Linked DNA regions of Homo sapiens. The protein of the gene in region 2 purifies or fractionates together with the protein of the main gene of each other region. This does not show direct contact. Each region holds a gene or a part of one and is shown on either strand. Other genes may lie near its edges.

The links.
Region 1: the proteins of MCEE (region 2) and CLUH purify together in Homo sapiens (co-immunoprecipitation; 2 studies listed by BioGRID and IntAct, with this or other methods). This does not show direct contact.

What each region holds. Positions count from the first base shown.
Region 1 is NC_000017.11:2,693,120-2,703,167, reverse strand, and holds part of CLUH (clustered mitochondria protein homolog), read left to right. Parts: intron 1-1,110; coding exon 1,111-1,254; intron 1,255-1,430; coding exon 1,431-1,555; intron 1,556-1,647; coding exon 1,648-1,802; intron 1,803-1,902; coding exon 1,903-2,028; intron 2,029-2,342; coding exon 2,343-2,490; intron 2,491-2,693; coding exon 2,694-2,786; intron 2,787-4,577; coding exon 4,578-5,272; intron 5,273-6,225; coding exon 6,226-6,449; intron 6,450-6,629; coding exon 6,630-6,734; intron 6,735-6,908; coding exon 6,909-7,009; intron 7,010-7,641; coding exon 7,642-7,794; intron 7,795-7,887; coding exon 7,888-7,950; intron 7,951-8,066; coding exon 8,067-8,311; intron 8,312-8,603; coding exon 8,604-8,688; intron 8,689-8,891; coding exon 8,892-9,045; intron 9,046-9,128; coding exon 9,129-9,268; intron 9,269-10,048. UniProt on the Homo sapiens protein: mRNA-binding protein involved in proper cytoplasmic distribution of mitochondria.
Region 2 is NC_000002.12:71,125,163-71,136,056, forward strand, and holds the start of MCEE (methylmalonyl-CoA epimerase, mitochondrial precursor), read right to left. Parts: upstream 5,068-10,894; 5' UTR 5,058-5,067; coding exon 5,018-5,057; intron 1-5,017. Other genes in the region: MPHOSPH10 (U3 small nucleolar ribonucleoprotein protein MPP10), read left to right, coding at 5,504-5,592, 7,736-8,414, 8,786-8,943, 9,464-9,635. UniProt on the Homo sapiens protein: Methylmalonyl-CoA epimerase involved in propionyl-CoA metabolism.

The DNA.
Region 1 (10,048 bases), on a different chromosome or scaffold from region 2:
TCTGCCAACTTCACGGCCCATGGGTTAAAGAACAGAGCCGTGGGCTGGGCATGGTGGCTCACGCCTGTAATCCCAACACTTTGGGAGGCCAAGGCGTGTGGATCACCTGAGGTCAGGAGTTGGAGACTTGCCTGGCCAACATGGTGAAACCCCATCTCTACTAAAAATACAAAAAGTTAGCTGCGCGTGGTGGCAGGTGCCTGTAATCCCAGCTACTCGGGAGGCTGAGGCAGGAGAATCACTTGAACCTGGGAGGCAGAGGTTGCAGTGTGCCCGGATCGTGCCACTGCACTCCAGCATGGGCAACAAGAACGAAACTCCGTCTCAAAAAAAAAAACAAAACAAAAGAACAGAGCCGTGATTCTAAAAAAAAAAAATCAGGCAGTACCATCCCAGGGCGTGAAGTCAGCGCAGTTCAGTTCTGTAGAGATCCATGAGAAGTCCCAAACGTTTCCTAGCCCTAGAGTGGGGAGGTCGGGCACGGGGAGGTGCCATCCGGTTGGTCTGTGGCCTCGAGTTTTCTGGGTAGAAGCTGCTTGGGTTCCACCCCAGGGCCTGTCCGCCTGTTGAGAGCAGTGACGGAAAAGGTCTGTAGCTCAACAGCGCCCACAGTTGATCACGGAACCTCTCCCCTCCACCAAAAGAACTGCCATTAAAATCCCATGAAACCACATAGGGGCAGTGTTGACATTGGGGGCCTTGGAAAGTCCTCAGGCCACCCCTACATGAGGCTGCCTCGGGAGAGCAGGGCAAGGCTGTGGTGTGGAAGTCCCACAGCTCCAAAAGCCCTGCCCAGCCGACACACTGGCGCACAAAAGCAGGCAGCCTTGTGGACGCCTGAGGCCTGTGTGTGCTTCAGAGGCATTTGGCAGAAAGTTCTTTATAAACAAAGATCCCTGCTCACCAGTAGGCAGAGTGTGTGTGTGTGTGTGTTTGTGGTGTCAAAACCAGAACTCCAGCTTATGTGTTCACAGTGGAATTTGAAAACGGAAACCTAAAGTTGAAAATTAAAACCACTGTGTTAGCACCTCCAAAACCTGTTTTGTGCTGGGCAGGTTGTTCAGGGTGCAGGGCCCTGGTAACGCCATACCCTCCCTGCCTTCCTGACAGAGCCGTACACGGTGCGTGAGGCCCGCATCCACGTGCGCCATGTCCGAGACCTGCTCAAGAGCCTGGACCCATCCGATGCCTTCAACGGGGTTGACTGCAACTCCTTGTCCTTCCTGAGTGTCTTCACCGACGGCGACCTGGGAGGTGCGGGAGGCACTGGGGCCGGGGATTGGGCCAAAGGGCGGGGAGCACGGAGGTGGGGGGCTGGAGAAGGGGCCGAGGGGCCTGGGCCTGAGGCACCCGGACCACGGCCATCAGGAGGTAGGGAGACAGCTGGCCCTGGGTGGCCCTGTGCTGACCACCAGCCTCGGGTCCCTCAGACAGCGGGAAGCGGAAGAAGGGCTTGGAGATGGACCCCATCGACTGCACACCACCCGAGTACATCCTGCCAGGGAGCCGGGAGCGGCCACTGTGTCCCCTGCAGCCCCAAAACCGTGACTGGAAGGTAGGATCCTGGGGGAGGGAGGAAGAGGGTCCCTGGCGGGGTGGAGGCCCCACACCAGAGGCCTGGCCCCTCAGACTCGGCCGCTCCCGAAGCCCTTGCAGTGCCTGAAAGTACTCACCATGAGCGGATGGAACCCGCCCCCGGGGAACCGGAAGATGCACGGGGACCTCATGTACCTGTTTGTGATCACAGCCGAGGACCGGCAAGTCAGCATCACCGCGTCCACACGGGGCTTTTACCTGAATCAGTGAGTCCCTGCCAGCCCACCACACCCCCCTGCCGTGCCAGCCGTCCTGGGTCTGGGCAGACACCTGGGCCCCCGCTCAGTGCCCGCCCTCTCCCTGCAGGTCCACAGCTTATCACTTCAACCCCAAGCCCGCCAGCCCCCGCTTCCTAAGCCATTCCCTAGTGGAGCTGCTCAACCAGATCAGCCCGACCTTCAAGAAGAACTTCGCTGTGCTGCAGAAGAAAAGGTAGTGCCTTTGTCCCCTCCCGCCTTGTCTCATGGCACACGGGGGCATGGGGTGAGCCGGCCCACCTGCACTCCAGTGCTTCTGTCTGAAGAAACCGCCCTGGGCCCCCAGTGTTGGAGTCCCCGCTCTAGGGAGCTGTCGGCCAGTGCCGAGACAGCAGCCGCAGGAGAGGCGCCCGTGCACTTCCATCTGGCTCCAGGGCAGTGTCTCAGGGTGGGAGATGCCGGAGCAGGCGGGGGCCTCAGAAAAGGGGCCCGTGGAAGGGCTCTGAGCTTGGTGGGCTGCCCCATCTCCCCCTCCCCTGCCTGCCACAGGGTCCAGCGCCACCCGTTCGAGAGGATCGCCACCCCATTCCAGGTGTACAGCTGGACAGCCCCCCAGGCGGAGCATGCCATGGATTGCGTGCGTGCAGAGGACGCCTACACCTCGAGGCTGGGCTATGAGGAGCACATTCCTGGACAGGTGCCTGCAACCTGGCCCTGCCCTCGCTGGGCACCCCTGCCCTCCTGGGTGCTGGGCTGGTTCCGTGCACTTCCCTGGAGGCCCCATGCTTGACTTCATTTGGGAGTCTGGGGCTCTTCTCAGGAAGGTAGAAGGAGCGACTTCCGGGAGCAGGTCACAGGGCACAGGCTGAGCTCGTTTTTCCCTCCCTGATCTCTCTGCAGACCCGAGACTGGAATGAGGAGCTGCAGACGACGAGGGAGCTGCCTCGCAAGAACCTGCCTGAGCGGCTGCTCCGAGAAAGGGCCATATTCAAGGTGCCTGCAGCCTCTGCTGACCGGCAGTCTGAGGCCCGCTGTCCACCTGCTGACGGGTTTTCTCATGGAGAGGAGGAAAGCAAGGGAGGCAGGGGCAGCCCTAACCCTGTCAGGTTCCCCGAAGGCCAGTCAGCGTCTCCCGCAGGGTCTGCTAGCCTTCCGCCTCCCAGCAGACCATCCCAGTACCTTTCTCTGGCCTCTCTGAGGCTTTGAGTCCCTGGAAGGAGCGGGCCCTACTTCCCATAGGGACTGAGTGTCCAGGGCCGTGCAGCTTCCCGCCCTCTGTGACTGCTGCGGGGCTTTTGCCTGGGCGAGCACTGGCCGGCCATGGCCCTTCTAGGGCGGGTGCTCATTTGCATAACACTTTTAGTTTGCTGGGGTTTAAAAGTTATTAGTGCTGGGTTACTAAGAGAAATGAGGAAAAGCAGTTGCTTAAGAAAAAAAAAATCTCAGGCCGGCTTCAGTAGCTCATGCCTGTAATCCCAGCACTTTGGGAGGCCGAGGCGGGCGGATCACAAGGTCAGGAGTTCAAGACCAGCCTGGCCAATATGGGGAAACCCCATCTCCACTAAAAATACAAAAATTAGCTGGGTGTGGTGGCGCATGCCTGTAGTCCCAGCTACTCGGGAGTCTGAGACAGGAGAATTGCTTGAACCCAATAGGCGGAGGTTGCAGTGAGCCGAAATTGCATCACTGCACTCCAGCCTGGGCGACAGAACAAGACTACGTCTCAAAAAAAAAAAAAAGAAATCTCAGCCAGGCACAGTGGCTCACGCCTGTAATCCTAGCACTTTGGGAGGCTGAGACAGGCAGATCACTTGAGCCCAGGAGTTGGAAACCAGCCTACGAAACATGGTGAAACCTCGTCTCTGCAAAAAATACAAAAGATTAGCCAGGCATGGTGGCATGTGCCTGTAGTCCCAGCTACTCGGGAGGCTGGAGTGGGAGGATGGCCTGAGCCAGGGGAAGTCGAGGCTTCAGTGAGCTCGGATCTCGTGCCGCTGCATTCCAGCCTTGGCAACAGCGTGATACCCTGTCTGAAAACAACCAACCTCCCATAGTTATACTGCCTAGAGATGATAATTGTAGAAACAAAAACTCATTTCTCGGGTACCGACTTCACCAGAGATGGTGCCAAGTGCGTTATAGAGACTATTTCCTATAATATATTGGACAACTTGTAAAGGTCAATACCTTTATCTGTTCAAGTTCACCTGGCACATAACTGGTGGATCCCAAACCTGCGCACGCTTGTTAATCACTAAGCCCTGCTGTCTCCCTCAGCACAAGTGTATTCTCAAAACATGGGGGTTTTGGTTTGTTTGCGCTTTTTTAGAAATGGAGTCTCACTCTGTCCCCCAGGCTGGAGTGCAGTGGTGTGATTTCGGCTCACTGTAACCTCCACCTCCCGGGTTCAAGCAATTCTCCTGCCTCAGCCTGTCGGGTGGCTGGGACTACAGGCGCGCGCCACCTCGCCTGGCTGATTTTTTTTGTATTTTTATTAGAGATGGGGTTTCACCATATTGGTCAGGCTGGTCTCGAACTCGTGACCTCAAGTGGTCTGACCGCCTCGGCCCCTCAAAGTGCTGGGATTACAGGTGTGAGCCACCGCGCCCGGCCAAAACATGGTTTTCTTGCCCTTTTCTACATATGAGGAAACTGAGGCTCCGGGTCCTTGGGTTTCCAAGGCAGGCCCGGTTGCCTCCGCGGTCTAGGTGCGTGCGCTTGGCCAGGTGGATGCAGGCTCTTGTGGGCGCGGCCTCTAACCCTGCCCTCCTCGACCCCCGCCAGGTGCACAGCGACTTCACCGCGGCAGCCACCAGGGGCGCCATGGCCGTCATTGACGGCAACGTGATGGCCATCAACCCCAGCGAGGAGACCAAGATGCAGATGTTCATCTGGAACAACATCTTCTTCAGCCTGGGCTTCGACGTCCGAGACCACTACAAGGACTTCGGGGGGGACGTGGCGGCCTACGTGGCGCCCACCAACGACCTGAATGGCGTCCGCACGTACAACGCGGTGGACGTGGAGGGGCTGTACACGCTGGGCACGGTGGTGGTGGATTACCGCGGCTACCGGGTCACGGCCCAGTCCATCATCCCCGGCATCCTGGAGCGGGACCAGGAGCAGAGCGTCATCTACGGCTCCATCGACTTCGGCAAGACCGTGGTGTCACACCCGCGGTACCTGGAGCTGCTGGAGCGCACGAGTCGGCCCCTCAAGATCCTGCGGCACCAGGTGCTCAACGACCGTGACGAGGAGGTGGAGCTCTGCTCCTCGGTCGAGTGCAAGGGCATCATTGGCAACGACGGGCGCCACTACATCCTCGACCTGCTGCGCACCTTCCCCCCGGACCTCAACTTCCTGCCCGTGCCTGGCGAGGAGCTGCCTGAGGAATGCGCCCGCGCCGGCTTCCCCCGCGCCCACCGGCACAAGCTCTGCTGCCTGCGCCAGGAGCTGGTGGACGCCTTCGTGGAGCACAGGTGAGGGGCGGCCCTGCCGGACCAGGGCCGGGGCCAGCTGCAGGGAGTGCGGGCGCCCTGGGTGGATCCGGGGTTGGGTCCTTGAAGGGAGAAGCGCTGGAGAGTGAAGAAGGGCTCCGTCTAGCCACAGTCATTGGAGACCCGTCCCCACCTGCCCTGCTGTCAGGCTCCCGAGCGCAGAAACCCGGGCTGCAGACTCGCGAGCAGCCAGGCGGGTAATGTGGCTGTGGCGGACACTGTTCTCTTAAGGAGCACTTGGAAGTCTGGGTGGCTGTGACTGTCCCCGTGCTGGGGCGGGCAGGTGGGGCACCGGGGGTCCCCGCCGCTGGTGTTTAGTGCTTAGGAAATGGGGAAATGGCCATGTCAGAGGTCCCACAGCATGAGTAACTCTCAAATGCCAGTGGCTTCCTGTCACTGTTGAGAGCCCTGACCTGGATGGGGAGCTCCTCTTTTCCCATACCCTCCAGAACGCAGCTGCCTTTTTTTTTTTTTTTCTGAGACGGAGTTTCACTCTTGTCGCCTAGGCTGGAGTGCAATGGCACGATCCCGGCTCACCGCAACCTCTGCCTCCCGGGTTCAAGTGATTCTCCTGTCTGAGCCTCCCGAATAGCTGGTATTACAGGCGTGCACCACCACGCCCAGCTAATTTTTTGTATTTTTAGTAGAGACGGGGTTTCTCCATGGTGGTCAGGCTGGTCTCGAACTCCCAACCTCAAGTGATCTGCCTGCCTCGTCCTCAAAGTGCTGGGATTACAGGCGTGAGCCACCACGCCCGGCCGCCTTTTTCTTCCTGTCTTGGGAGATCTTGGTTTTTCTGCGTTGACTCATGCACACCGGCCAGGAGGTGCCCTATGCCTGCGGGGTGTGGAGCCCCAGCTGCCGGGAGCCGTGGGCCAGCAGAGCTCCTCTCCCCGATGTCCAGCTCCTGCTCTGCCCTGTTTCCTCTGCTCCAGGTACCTCCTCTTTATGAAGCTGGCCGCCTTGCAGCTGATGCAGCAGAACGCCAGCCAGCTGGAGACCCCCTCCTCCCTGGAAAATGGTGGTCCTTCCTCCTTGGAGTCCAAGTCTGAGGATCCTCCAGGACAGGAGGCGGGAAGTGAGGAGGAGGGTAGCAGCGCCAGCGGCCTGGCCAAGGTGAAGGAGCTGGCAGAGACCATCGCCGCAGACGACGGCACAGGTGGGGCTGCTGCAGATGGCCGGGAGAGAGCCCGGGCTGGCCCTGCCAGGGTGGCTTATGACCCCCACCTGGGAGAGGCTGGCAGACATCTCTGCAAGGAGCTAGGGGGCGAGGCTTGGCGCAGCCCAGCTCCACCGGTGGCAGAGGGGACCCGTGTCTCATGGAGCCATGTCTCCACAGCAGACCCTCGGAGCCGGGAGGTGATCCGCAACGCGTGCAAGGCGGTCGGCTCCATCAGCAGCACCGCCTTCGACATTCGCTTCAATCCTGACATCTTCTCACCAGGCAGGTGGTGGGGGCCGGCCAGCGCAGGAGCCCTCCAGGGCCAGAGCTTCGCTGGGGGGCCTGGGCCCTTGGGGCTGGTGGGTTTGTCCCCCATCTGAGCGCTTCCCCCGCCAGCGCCAGGCGGCATTTGTCTTGCCACTGCCTGGCTCAGCCTCTCTGCTCTCCCTCCTCCAGGGGTTCGTTTCCCTGAGTCCTGCCAGGATGAAGTTCGGGACCAGAAGCAGCTGCTGAAGGACGCGGCTGCCTTCCTGCTCTCCTGCCAGATCCCTGGCTTGGTGAGGGAGGGGCTGCGGGGCTGGGTGGGGCTTGTGTGGAGGGTGCTGGTCCCTCATCTGTCTCCGACTTGGAGGCCCATGAACACAGGCTCGCAGGAGTGACTTTTTCAGCTTTCCCTGAGTGGGCATCCCCGTTTGACAGATGGGGAGCCTGACCCCCAGAGGTCAAGGGCACAGGCCCTGCTGAGCCCACCGTGTGGGCTGGCAGCTGGTAATCCAGTCTTCTGAGCCCTGGATGGTGGCATGGCTGGGGGACGGGGCCAGAGCTCAGTGGGGGCTGCCCATCCTCCTCCTCCTCCCGCAGGCTCTGTGTCTGGTTCCAGGATGCTGGGTGCTCCCCCAACACCGTGGCCTCCAAGCCTCAGGACACGGGGCTGGGGGTCAAGTAGTGCCCCCAAGCGGGCACCTCTGCTTCTCCCACATGGTTAGAGGGGGCCTGTACCACCACCGGGCTCTTGGTTCTTGGCCTGCGCTCCTGCCAGAGGCTGGGCACATTCTGACATCCTGACTGGGAGCTGGAGCCTTCGGGGTCCTTCTCCAGGGCCTCCCAGGATAGCTGTGCTCCCCCAGAAGGACTCAGTTGGGTGGAGGCAGAGGAGCTGGGTGGGGGCCTGAGCTGCTGCAGCCCGCAGGTGAAGGACTGCATGGAGCACGCGGTCCTGCCCGTGGACGGGGCAACGCTGGCAGAGGTGATGCGCCAGCGGGGCATCAACATGCGCTACCTGGGCAAGGTGCTGGAGCTGGTGCTGCGGAGCCCGGCCCGCCACCAGCTGGACCACGTCTTTGTGAGTGCTGCCCGGGGTGGGGCGGAACGGGAGCTGTGGGACTGGGATGGAGGCCGGGGGCCTGACCAAGACCTCCCTTCTGAATCCTTCCAGAAAATCGGCATTGGAGAACTCATCACCCGCTCGGCCAAGCACATCTTCAAGACGTACTTACAGGTGCCACCCGTCCGCTCTGCGGCTGGCCATGGCCTCCCAGGGTGGTGTGGGGCGTCGGGAAAGAGCCTGAGGTGGGGCTGAGGGCCCTCATGACTCGGATCCAACCTGCCTCGCAGGGAGTCGAGCTCTCCGGCCTCTCAGCCGCCATCAGCCACTTCCTGAACTGCTTCCTGAGCTCCTACCCAAACCCCGTGGCCCACCTGCCCGCCGACGAGCTGGTCTCCAAGAAGCGGAATAAGAGGAGGAAAAACCGGCCCCCGGGGGCTGCAGATAACACAGCCTGGGCTGTCATGACCCCCCAGGAGCTCTGGAAGAACATCTGCCAGGAGGCCAAGAACTACTTTGACTTCGACCTCGAGTGGTGCGTGCGGGGCAGGGGCGGTGGGGTGGGTGGGATTGGGCAGATGAGGCGGCCACCACCTGCTCCCAGATGGCGTCTAAGGCCTGTGGTCATAGGCCAGGGAGTCAGAGAGAAGAGGGAGCAGCTGTGGAGATCACTGGGTGCTGGAGGGTGAGGGCAGCCGGGAGGCTCCCGGGGGCCGGGTGGGGCAGTGTTGGGGGCCCGGGCTGGACAGCGTTGGGGAGCTGGGTGGGGCGGTGTTGGGGGGGCCCGGCGGTGCTTGGGCTGCTCAGGCCCCCTGCTCCCTCCTCAGTGAGACCGTGGACCAGGCTGTGGAGACCTACGGCCTGCAGAAGATAACGCTCCTGCGGGAGATCTCGCTGAAAACAGGGATCCAGGTGGGCATGGCTCACAGCATCCCCGCTGTGTCCCCGCTGTGTCCCCGCTGCGTCCCTGCTGCAGGCTCCCACTCCTGGCCAGGGCCACAGGGGAAGTGGCTTTTTCACGGTAGCCGTCTGTGCGCAAGCGTTGGTGGGTTGGGAGGTGCCAACCCGCTGAACCTGGGCCTGAGGCTTCCTGTGGTGGGGGGGCTGCCCCCCAGGTCCTGCTGAAGGAGTACAGCTTCGACAGTCGCCACAAGCCCGCGTTCACCGAGGAGGACGTGCTCAACATCTTCCCCGTGGTCAAGCACGTCAACCCCAAGGCCTCGGATGCCTTCCATTTCTTCCAGAGCGGGCAGGCCAAAGTGCAGCAGGGTGTGTGGCCAGGTGGGGCTGGGTGGAGGTGGGGGTTCCCCATGGCCCGTCCTGACCTTGCCACCCCTGGGGGTGCCCTGCAGGCTTCCTGAAGGAGGGCTGTGAGCTCATCAATGAGGCCCTGAACCTGTTTAACAACGTCTACGGAGCCATGCACGTGGAGACCTGCGCCTGCCTGCGCCTCCTCGCCCGCCTCCACTACATCATGGGCGACTACGCAGAGGTACCCTCTGGGCTGTGGCAGCAAAGGCCTGGCCTCGTGTTGGGGGATGGGGAGTGAGGGGGCCCCTGACGGAGGAGTGGGTGGAGTCCAGGGAGACCCCAGGAAGTCGCTGGTTCTGCCCAGGCCACCCCTGGCTCCACCCCTCTGTAACTGTGTCCCGAGCGGGAGAGCTCAGGAGCACCCTGTGCTGCGGTGAGGTCAGTTCTGGGAGGCGATGGCAGGGGACCCCCCCACAGGGCGTCAGCAAGGACGCCTCCTGAGACTCCGTGAGTGGGCAGGAAGCATGCCACCGAGCTCCCACGTCCTCTGTGCCCAGTGCAGGCTGTGGGGTTCTGGGTGCCCTGCCTGGCCGGGGCTGGTGGAGGCTGTGGTGGGGTTCTGGGTGCCCTGCCTGGCCAGGGCTGTTTCAGGGTTAGCATGTCTTAGGATCCCTACTCCCTGCAAAGGGACTGTTTTTTCTTCTGTTTATAAATGGGTGGGTTGTTTGTTTGTTTGTTTGTTTCTGAGACAGGGTCTTGCTTTGTCACCCAGGCTGGAGTGTAGTGGCGTGATATCGACTCCCTGCAGCCTCAACCTCCTGGGCTCAAGCGATTCTCCCACCTCAGCCTCCCGAGTAGCTGGGATTACAGGCGTGAGCCAGCACACCCAGCTAATTTTTGTATTTTTAGTAGAGATGGGGTTTCATCATGTTGGCCAGGATGGTCTCAAACTCCTGACCTCAAGGGACCCACCCCTGCTCAGGCTTTTTTTTTTTTTTTGTAACATTTTTAGTAGTTTTAG
Region 2 (10,894 bases):
GTGTGTATGTGTGTGTATATATATAAATATATATATATATATATATATATTTTTTTTTTTTTTTGAGACGGAGTCTCACTATTTCGCCCAGAATGGAGTGAAGTGGCGCGATCTGGGCTCACTGCAACCTCCGCCCCCCAGGTTCAAGCGATTCTCCTGCCTCAGCCTCCCGAGTAGCTGGAATTACAGGCACCTGCCACATGCCCGGCTAATGTTGTATTTTTAGTAGAGATGGGGTTTCGCCTCATTGGCCAGGCTGGTCTCGAACTCCTGACCTCAGGTGATCCACCCACCTCGGCCTCCCAAAGTGATAGGATTAGAGATGTGAGCCACTGTGCCCACCCTAATTTTTGCATTTTTAGTAGAGATGGGGTTTCACCATGTTGGTCAGGCTGGTCTCAAACTCCTGACCTCAGGTGATCCACCCACCTCGGTCTCCCAAAGTGCTGGGATTATAGGTGTAAGCCACCATTCCAGTCAGTTTTTAGCATTTTTAAAATTCACTGTCGCTGTGTCCTCATCAGATAGTTTCTTGATCTCCACAGATAACTCTGCATTCCATTCATTTAGCAAACAGTCATTGCATGTCATTAACAACAAGAATGGCCTGAATTTACTGTGCACCTACTGTCTGGCACTGTATTTATTTTTTTACACCAACTATCTAATATTCACAACAAACCAAGTTAGAAACTTAGTAAGTTTCATTGTTATCATGAAATCCAAGTGGATTACAACCGAGTACACATATACATAAATGTACAATTGAAACTAAATTGCAAAAAAAGAATACCTTCCACCTCAGCCTCCTGAGTAGCTGGAACCATAGGCATGAGCCACCATGCCTGGCTAATTTTTGTACGTTTTGTAGAGATGGGGTTTCACCATGTTGCCCAGGCTGCCCATGTTGCTCCTGGGCTCAAGCGATCCTCCGACCTTGGCTTCCCAAAGTGCTGGGACTACAGATGTGAGTCACAGCACTAGGCCAGTGAAAATGTTTTGAAATAGACAAATGTGATAGTTGCACTAACCCAGTGAATGTAATAATTACTGTTAAACTGTACTTTATTATTTATTTATTTTGAGACGAACTCTTGCTCTTTCACCCAGGCTGGAGTGCAATAGTGTGATCTCGGCTCACTGCAACCTCCACCTTCCGGGTTCAAGCGATTCTCCTGCCTCAGTCTCCTGAATAATTGGTATTACAGGCGCATGCCACCGCACCCGGCTAATTTTTGTATTTTTAGTAGAGACAGGGTTTCACCATGTTGGCCAGGCTGGTCTCGAACTCCTGACCTCGTGATCCGCCCACCTCGGCCTCCCAAAGTGCCGGGATCACAGGCATGAGCTACTGTGCCCAGCCTAAACTGTACATTTTTAAAGGGTTTTGTTATGTACATTTTACCAAAAAAAAAAAAAAAAAAAAAAAAGATCCAACAATAAAAATCCAAAGGTGAAATTGTGTAGACCAAGCAAACTGGGTAGAGAACACTGAATAAAGGAGTTAAAAAGAGACAGAGCTTTATATTTAATAAAAATGTGTTCCTGAAAAGTTTGTTGTGAATTGAACTCTTAATTATTATATTTCTCCTTTGACTTGTAGAAACTTTTTTCCAGCTTGAGGTATGATGACTAATAGAAACGGTGTATCTTTAAGGTATACAATGTGATGTTTTAATAAATGCATAAATTATGAAAATGATTACCAACACTGAAGCTACCTTTTTAAAGCTATTTTTATTTCAGGTTGCCCTCCAACTAGCAGGAATTCACAGCTCTTTAGTTTTAGATTTCTCTGCCTCCCATTTCAGAATAGTGCAGCAGAATTGCATTATTTTGAATTCTGCAATGTTTAATTTGTGATTATTCCAATAAAGGTTGCTTTGCATGAATATACTACAGTGTAAAACCATGTGCAAATAAATGCATAAGATATTTAAAAACAGAAGTGTTAATAAAAAACGCATGTAAAGATGAATACAGATTAAAGAAACTATTTTCACATGTCAGGAAGCTGGTATACAAGTAAAAGATCAAAATCGGATGTGTATGTTAACTCTCATTCCAATCTTCCTTTCAATATCAATTCTCGTTAATCACTTTTAGTGTCCTGACTTAAAAACAACATTGCATTTCTTTCAGTTCAGATTTTGCATTTATTTCAGATCACACTTTTTAGACACTGTCCCTGAATACATAAAGGTTTAGCTGCAAGGATCTATACTCAAATGCATTAAGAGTACTTACTATTTAAAGACATTAGATGTTAAATTTGTATAAAAAGTACTATAAAAGTGAATAATCACTTGTAATAGGTTTTTTAACAGCTTTATCTCTTAATAGTTTTTAAACAGACTTAAAATTTATATACCATAAAGTTCACCCATTTGAAGTGTACAATTCATTTCTTTGCATCTTTGCAAAGTTGTGCGACCTTCACATAATCTAATTTTAGAACACGTAATAAGTTTGTTTGTTTTTTTGAAACGAGTCTGGCTCTGTAGCCCAGGCTGGAGTGCAATGGCGCAATCTTGGCTCAGTGCAACCTCTGCTTCCCAGGTTCAAGCAATTCTCCTGCCTCAGCCTCCGGAGTAGCCGGGATTACAGGAGCGCGCCACCACGCCCGGTTAATTTTTGTATTTTTAGTAGAGATGGGTTTTGCCATGTTGGCCAGGCTGGTCTTGAACTCCTGACCTCAGGTGATCCACCTTCCTCAGCCTCCCAAAGTGCTGGGATTACAGGCGTGAGTCACCGCGCCTGGCCGAACATAAGTCTGAATTTTCACTGAATATCTGGTTTGAGGAAACATACGTATTTAGAAAGTCATTCATTAGAAGTGCTTTCAAGTTAGTCTGGTAAGTTTTCTCTTAAACATTTGACCAGTTAATTTCACAGCACCATATATATATCTTCAACTTGTTTCAAACTATGATCAATTTTTTTTATTCATTACAGTAAGTAAACAGATTACATTTCTGTTAGCCCATTTACAGACGATTAATGAAAGTAAACCTATGCAGTCATGTAAGTTGGTCATTCTTGTCTCCCACCTAACAGGTTCAATTTCCATTTTCAGAACTTTTCTACGTGTTCACTCTGATTTTTCTGTGCTTTTGTTTTTCGGCGAAGTTTTATGTTCCTTAAAAGAGGGGCCATAACATAGAATTACCATGTAATCCAGCAATTCCACTTATGAGTATACACACCCCCAAAGAAGCGGGAATTCAGAAGTATTTGTACACCCACGTTCATAGCTGTATTACAATAGCCAAAAGGTGGGGATAACCCAAATGTCTATCAAGAGACGAATGGATAAACAAAATGTGGTATACACACACAATGGAATATTATTCAGTCTTAAAAAGCAATTTTTTTTTTTTTTCTGAGACGGAGTTTCGCTTTGGTTGCCCAGGCTGGAGTGCAGTGGCGCGATCTTGGCTCACGCCAACCTCCGCCTCCCGGGTTCAAGCGATTATCCTGCCTCAGCCTCCCGAGTACCCGGGATAACAGGCGTGTGCTACCACGCCCGGCTAATTTTTGTATTTTTAGTAGAGACGGGCTCACGCCTGTAATCCCAGCACTTTGGGAAGACGAGGTGGGCAGATCACCTGAGGCCAGGAGTTCCAAACCAGCCTGGCCAACATGGTGAAATCTCGTCTCCACTAAAAATGCAAAAAATTAGCCGGGCGTGGTGCCGGGTGCCTGTAATCCCAGCTACTCGGGAGGCTGAGGCGGAAGAATGGCTTGAACCTGGGAGGCAGAGGTTGCAGTGAGCTAACGCCACTGCACTCCAGCCTGGGCGACAGAGTGAGACTCTGTCTCAAAAAAAAAAAAAAAGGTAAATTTTACTTTATGTATATTCAACCACACACACACACACACAAGTGGAGACATTAAGCTTCAAGTATCTTAATAGGACAAATCAAAGGCAATCTTTGGAATACACTGTCTTCATTTTTCCTTTATGCCAAGATGTGTATGTAAGTACAAAACAAACATGCACCTTTATCTGTATTGAGTTCTTGCAGTATGTATATGACCTGTTGGAAGTCATACTTTTTCCCAAACTGTCAATCATTAAAGTGTGCAGTTCTAAAAATAGACATAAAAATGCCTTTTCCCAAATATTCATTTATTTATAGTTTTACGTTCCTATCTTGTGTATCACCTAAGAGGAAGGTATGCCTTACGGTTAAGAATGTGGGCTCTGGTGCTAGAAGGATTTATCACGAATGTCCCGGAGTAACTCTGGGGCATTACCACTTGGCACCTTCTTCCTAATAGGGAATCTCAGATTAAGGGAAATACTTGCCCTCTCATAAAAGGAGGAAGAGAAAAAAAAAAAGGATAAAAAGAGGAGAAAGTGAGTCAGAAAACGTGACAATTATTACAGTTATTTCTGTCATAACTGATTCTATGTACATATTTTAAAAAAAATGAAGGGGGAGAGAACTCAAGAAAGTTTCCAAATCCACATGCTTTTATCTGTGTACGCGATAAATATATTAGTGCACGTGGAAAAACCACTCCTTTTGTATTCTTTACACCACTGACCTTTGAGTGTTCCCAACAGAAAGCTGGTCACGCTTGGAGTTCGGCCGACTAGTAGTTGTTGTTTTTACGGAACGTGCTCTCCTTTCTGGTTTCTCCCCAGTCTCTTTATTGGTGCGCGGTAAAATAACTTACCGATCCGCTTCTATTTACTTCTGTCCCTGCCCTGCCTGACCTGCCGGGCAAGTTCCCTCGACTCTCCCGCCCACATACTGGAAGGTGCAGAGCCCAAGGCGCACAGCTCTCGGATGGAAATGGGACTCATGCACAAGGCAATCCCCGCTACTAAGCGGTGGCGCTTCTGGAAGGCACCCTCTGCCTAAGTGACAGCAGCTGCTGTGGAACGCGCCCCCGGGGGAGGACATTAGATCAAGGTGCTTTGGCCACGCCGAGGCCTCCTCCGCCCCCGACCGCCGTTCCCACGCTCCCTGTCCCATGGCGAAGGTCGCCGGTGCCCGGTATTCACCTACGGCATTCGCGGCTGCAGCCTTCAGCACCCGCGCCATTTTGGAAAGCAACCCGCCACGTCAAGACTAGCCACGGAGGTTGAGAGACGCGCGGCAGAGGGCGGGGCGGGAGGCAGAGGGGGCGGGGACAGAAAGGTCAGGGGCGTGGCGAAGGTCGCTGCTTTCCTGCTACAACGGGCCTACTTTAGCTAAAACAGAAACGTAAGGCCAGGACGGGTCACCCTTTGTGGGCCCCTGAAAAATACAAAACGAAGTTTGGAGAGAGTTGAAAGGCGTTTGGGCTGACCATGGAGATTTTTGTTTCCCACCCTCCTGCGAAAGCGCTCGCGCTGCCATTGGCTCTGGCTGAGGGCGAGTCCGGAACCTGTGCGCCGCGGAACTTTCGGCTCTGAAATCCAAGTTGCGCTGGGCGCATCTTTGCCGCGCGGTTTCCGGGCGGCTCCCTTCCCTTGCATGCTGCATTGTGTCGGGAGTTGCTGACAGCCATGGCGCCGCAGGTCTGGCGTCGACGGACCCTGGAGCGGTGTCTGACGGAAGTCGGCAAAGCCACGGGTCGGCCCGAGTGCTTCCTCACGTAAGTGCGCAGATCCCGGGCTCGGGGTGCGACCGGGGTCTCACGTGGACGCGGGTTGCAGGCCTCCGGCAAATTGTGGAGCTGGGGGAAGGTAAGGGGAAACGTAAAATCGCTTTTCCCCAAATTTCAGAGTTTATGCTTTCCTAGGCTATCAAAATTTTAAAAACTGTTAAAATTTGTATAGATGGATCTCTCAGTTGAGTGTTACTGAAATCACTCTAACCTCAATTGTTAACACCTAGAAGCTTCCCTTGGGCTTCTTACGCCCCCATCCCTCTACACACAGACTGTTGGTTTCTCCTTCCTCCTATGTGCTCTCAAAGCACTTAGCGCTTAGCATACTTTATTGAAAGTACGAACTTGTCACTTGTCTGTCCACCCCCCATGACTAAGCTTCTTCAGAAATAGAACTTCCATGTCTCTTCCCAACACAAGCGTTTTATATGTATTTTGTTGAAGAATTTAAAATGTGATCTATGAAATTATTACTCATTTATGTTTCAAACCCCAACCTTTCCCTGAGTTCCCAGCTCACAGCAACTACAGACTGAGCTTAGTTTGAATTCCGTAGCACACAACTGGGATATCCACACTGTACAACTTTTAACGATTTTTAAAATTTTGGTACTGTCAAGCATCTCAAATTCACTGCGTCCAAAATAGAGCTGTTGTGTCTGTTTAATAGAATTGTTGTTTCTACCCACCTATACTCTGCCATCCCCTGAAGTCCTTTTCCCATGCTACACCTGTCAAGCGCGTCTGTGTGAAGAGACCACTAAAACAGGCTTTGTGTGAGCCACAAGGCTGTTTATTCACTTGGGTGCAAGTGGGCTGAGTCCGAAAAGAGAGTCAACTAATGGTGATGGGGAAGGGGTTGCTTTATAGGAGTTGGGTAGGTAATGGAAAATTACAGTAAAAGGTGGTTATCTATTAGCAGAGGAGGACGGGGTCACAAGGTACATGGTGGGGAGATCATAAGACTTATTGTCCAGAAGAAGAATGTCACAAGGTCGATTGATCAGTTAAGGTAGGGCAGGGACAAGTCACAATGGAGGAATGTTGTAATGTTGATTAATCAATTAAGGCAGGAACTGGCTGTTTTATTTCTTTTGTGGTTTTTCGGCTGCCCCAGACTTCTTGGCTCCTGCAGGCCATCTGGACATATATGTGCAGGTCACAGGGGTTACAATGGCTGAGCTTCAGCTCAGAGGCCTGACACCACCACCCAAGCCTTCCCTATCTCAGTAAATGGCACTTCTGTCTTTTCAGGTACTCAAACATAAAACTAGGCTGCTACTTTAATGTCTTCATTTTTCTCTATTCTATATCTAATTCTTTAGCAATCCTGTCAGTTCTACCTCCAAACTATACTCAGCATATTCACTGCTCTAACTCCAGTCTAAATCACCATTATCCTTTCGCTGGAATGCTGCATCAACCTTCTAATCACTGTACTTTCCTCCTCCTCCCTCGTCCCTTTCTCCTTCCTTCGTGTAAATCATCATTTCATCCCTCTGCTTAAAATGTTTTCTCTTTACACTTTAAATGACAAATTCTTACTCCTGAACCATGCATAATTTGGCTCCCATCAGTCTCTCCAGCTTCACCCTCTGCCTCCTTCACACTCTAGCCATGGTCACCTGTTTGTTTCCTCAAGCTCACCTCTAGAGGATTTGCATCTTAGAGGATTTCTTCTGCCTGGAATACATGTTTCCCAACCTTTATAAGACTATCTCCTTATCTGTAGGTTTCCTCTCAGATGTGACATCTAAGAGAGGTTTTCCTTGACCACTGTAGCCAAAGCAAATGTTGATCATTGAATGAATAAGTGAACAAATGAATGGAGTGGTATATAATGTAGCAGAATTGATAATTTAAGGTTAATTCACTATATATCTCCAAGCAAATAGATTTATAATGGTTTTCCTGCCTAAAATCTATACAGCCGATTCACAGATACTTGGTTGACAGGTTTTATATATCAGTGTAGCTCATCAGCTTATATGTTGTTGGGGGCCAGAATCTATACTTATACTTCATTCAAATTTTATTTTACAAAAGAGTTGGGTTTTTTTTATTTTTATTAAGAGTGCTGTGAAATTATTACCTGTAATTCTAAATCTCACTTAATTCCTCCCAATAGGATTCAAGAGGGATTGGCATCAAAGTTCACTTCTTTAACAAAAGTGCTTTATGACTTTAATAAAATATTAGAGAATGGTAGGATCCATGGAAGCCCCTTGCAAAAACTTGTGATAGAAAATTTTGATGATGAGCAGATTTGGCAACAACTGGAATTGCAAAATGAACCAATTTTACAATACTTTCAGAATGCAGTTAGTGAAACAATTAATGATGAAGATATCAGTCTTCTCCCAGAGAGTGAAGAACAGGAACGTGAAGAGGATGGTTCAGAGATAGAGGCTGATGACAAGGAGGACCTAGAAGATTTAGAGGAGGAGGAAGTGTCCGACATGGGTAATGATGATCCTGAAATGGGTGAGAGAGCTGAAAACTCAAGCAAATCTGATCTGAGGAAAAGCCCCGTTTTCAGTGATGAGGATTCTGACCTTGACTTTGATATCAGCAAATTGGAACAGCAGAGCAAGGTGCAAAACAAAGGACAGGGAAAACCAAGAGAAAAGTCCATAGTAGATGATAAATTCTTCAAACTCTCTGAAATGGAGGCCTATTTAGAAAACATAGAAAAAGAAGAGGAACGAAAAGATGATAATGATGAGGAGGAGGAAGATATTGATTTTTTTGAAGATATTGATTCTGATGAAGATGAAGGGGGACTGTTTGGAAGTAAAAAACTTAAGGTAAAGTTTTGAGAGAAGAGAGAGCACTTTCCTCCTCAAATTAGCTTTTCTTCTGTTTTTCTAGGAGAGATTTAATTGTAGTTAGAAGATTTAGTGATAAGAAATATTGTGCTCTATCTTATCAGTTATAAATGAATCTGTACTTCCATTCAATTTATGTTCCAGTTGGTCTTATAATTTTGTGGTAGTGTTATTAGTTGCCATTTTCACCTAATAATTATTTAGTTATTAGTTTGGTTATTAGTTATTAGCTTGTAGTGTTATTAAGTCAGAAAGTAATATATACATACAATATACATGCAAATCTATATGCATGTGTTAATATATTTTTCTATCCCTAATTAATAGTTTTTAATATCTTTTTATTTTAGTCAGGTAAAAGTTCCAGAAATCTGAAATACAAAGATTTTTTTGATCCAGTTGAAAGTGATGAAGACATAACAAATGTTCATGATGATGAGCTGGATTCAAACAAAGAAGATGATGAAATTGCTGAAGAAGAAGCAGAAGAACTAAGTATTTCGGAAACGTGAGTATTTTGAACCATCCTTTACATTGTAAGCTGGAATTGCCCAATCATGTGTGTGTACTCGTAGTTATCAAATGTGTTTGTCTTAGCAAGTTCTATTCTCTAATATCAGATATTCTCAAGATAGCCAGAGGAAAGTCTCTGACTGTAAAGGGACATTAGAGATCACTTAATGAAGAAAAATATCTCTGGTAGTAGCAATCAAACCTTCCTTACCAGGAACTTTGATTTGGTTTTGTGTCAATAAAATCCTGTTATTTTTGTGAGATAAGAGATTTGTATTATAGATTGATGAATAATTTATTTTCTATATGTTGGACACTTTTTTTTCTGTTTCTTACATAGCGTTTTACCTAAATAATACCTTTTGTTCCTTAATAACTGAATGATTTTGGAAGTTCTGAGTATTTGGTTGCATTAGGTATATAAAATAAGAACTTTATTAAGGGAAAATTTGTTTCCTTTTGTTTTTCTAATGGAAAGTAGTATATTTCTTTTTATAAGAGTTTTGGTATTGTAGGGATGAAGATGATGACCTTCAAGAAAATGAAGACAATAAACAACATAAAGAAAGCTTGAAAAGAGTGACCTTTGCTTTACCAGATGATGCGGAAACTGAAGATACAGGTGTTTTAAATGTAAAGAAAAATTCTGATGAAGTTAAATCCTCCTTTGAAAAAAGACAGGAAAAGGTAATTAGTAATTTAAGGAATTTTTAATATACTTGATATTAACCATCCTTTGAAAACTATTAACCATCCTTTGAAAACAAATATCTTGGCCAGGTGCAGTGGCTCACGCCTGTAATCCTAACACTTTGGTAGTCCAAAGCAAGAGGATCGCTTGAGCTCAGGAGTTCAGAACCAGCCTAGGCAACATAGTGAGACCTTGTCTCTACCAAAAATACAAAAATTAGCTGGGCATGGTGATGTGTGCCTGTAGTCCAGCTACTCTGGTGTCTGAGGTGGGAGGATCACTTGAGCCTAGGAGGTTGATGCTGCGGTGAGCTAAGATTGCATCACTGCTCTCTAGCCTGGGCGGCAAGCAAGACCTTGTCTTAAAACAAAAAACCAAAAATCTTGCCATATGGAAAGCATCTGATTTGCAAAATCAGTGCCTGCATTTCAGTTTGGGGCCTGTGAGTAAAATAGTTGCTTCTGCTGGGCGTGGTGGCTCATGCCTGTAATCCCAGCACTTTTCGGGGCTGAGGCAGGTGGATCACTTCAGGTCAGGAGTTCGAGACCAGCCTGGCTAACATGGTAAAACCCCATCTCTACTAAAAAAAAAAAAAAGTAGCCAGGTGTGGTGGCGGGCACCTGTAATCCCAGCTAATCGGGAGGCTGAGGCAGGAGAATCCCTTGAACCCAGGAGGCGGAGGTTGCAGTGAGCCGAGATGGTGTCACTGGACTCCAGCCTGGGCGACAGAGTGTGACTCTGTCTCAAAAATAAAAAAATTTTTAAAGATAATTGTTTTTTTCTCTGTCCCTAATATCTTTATATGTATAGCATGTCTCTCCTGATAAAGCTGTCCTGTGAGCATCTTAACTGTTTCCACTGTTTTGGAGGATACCACATATGTCTTTTCTTTTTCTTTTTCTTTTTTTTTTTTTTTTTGAGACAGAGTTTCACTCTTGTCACCCAGGCTGGAGTGCAGTGGCGTGATCTTAGCTCACTGCAACCTCCACCTCCCAGGTTCAATCAATTTTCCTGCCTCAGCCTCCTGAGTAGTTGGGATTACAGATGCCCGCCACCACGCCCAACTAATTTTTTTGTATTTTTAGTAGAGACGGGGTTTCACCATGTTGGCCAGGCTGGTCTGAAGCTCCTGACCTCAGGTGATCCACCCACCTTGGCCTCCCAAAGTGCTGGGATTACAGGCGTGAGCCACTGCGCCCAGCGGATACCACCTATGTCTTTAAGGTGCTCCACAGATTTTTGTGAGTGCCAAATA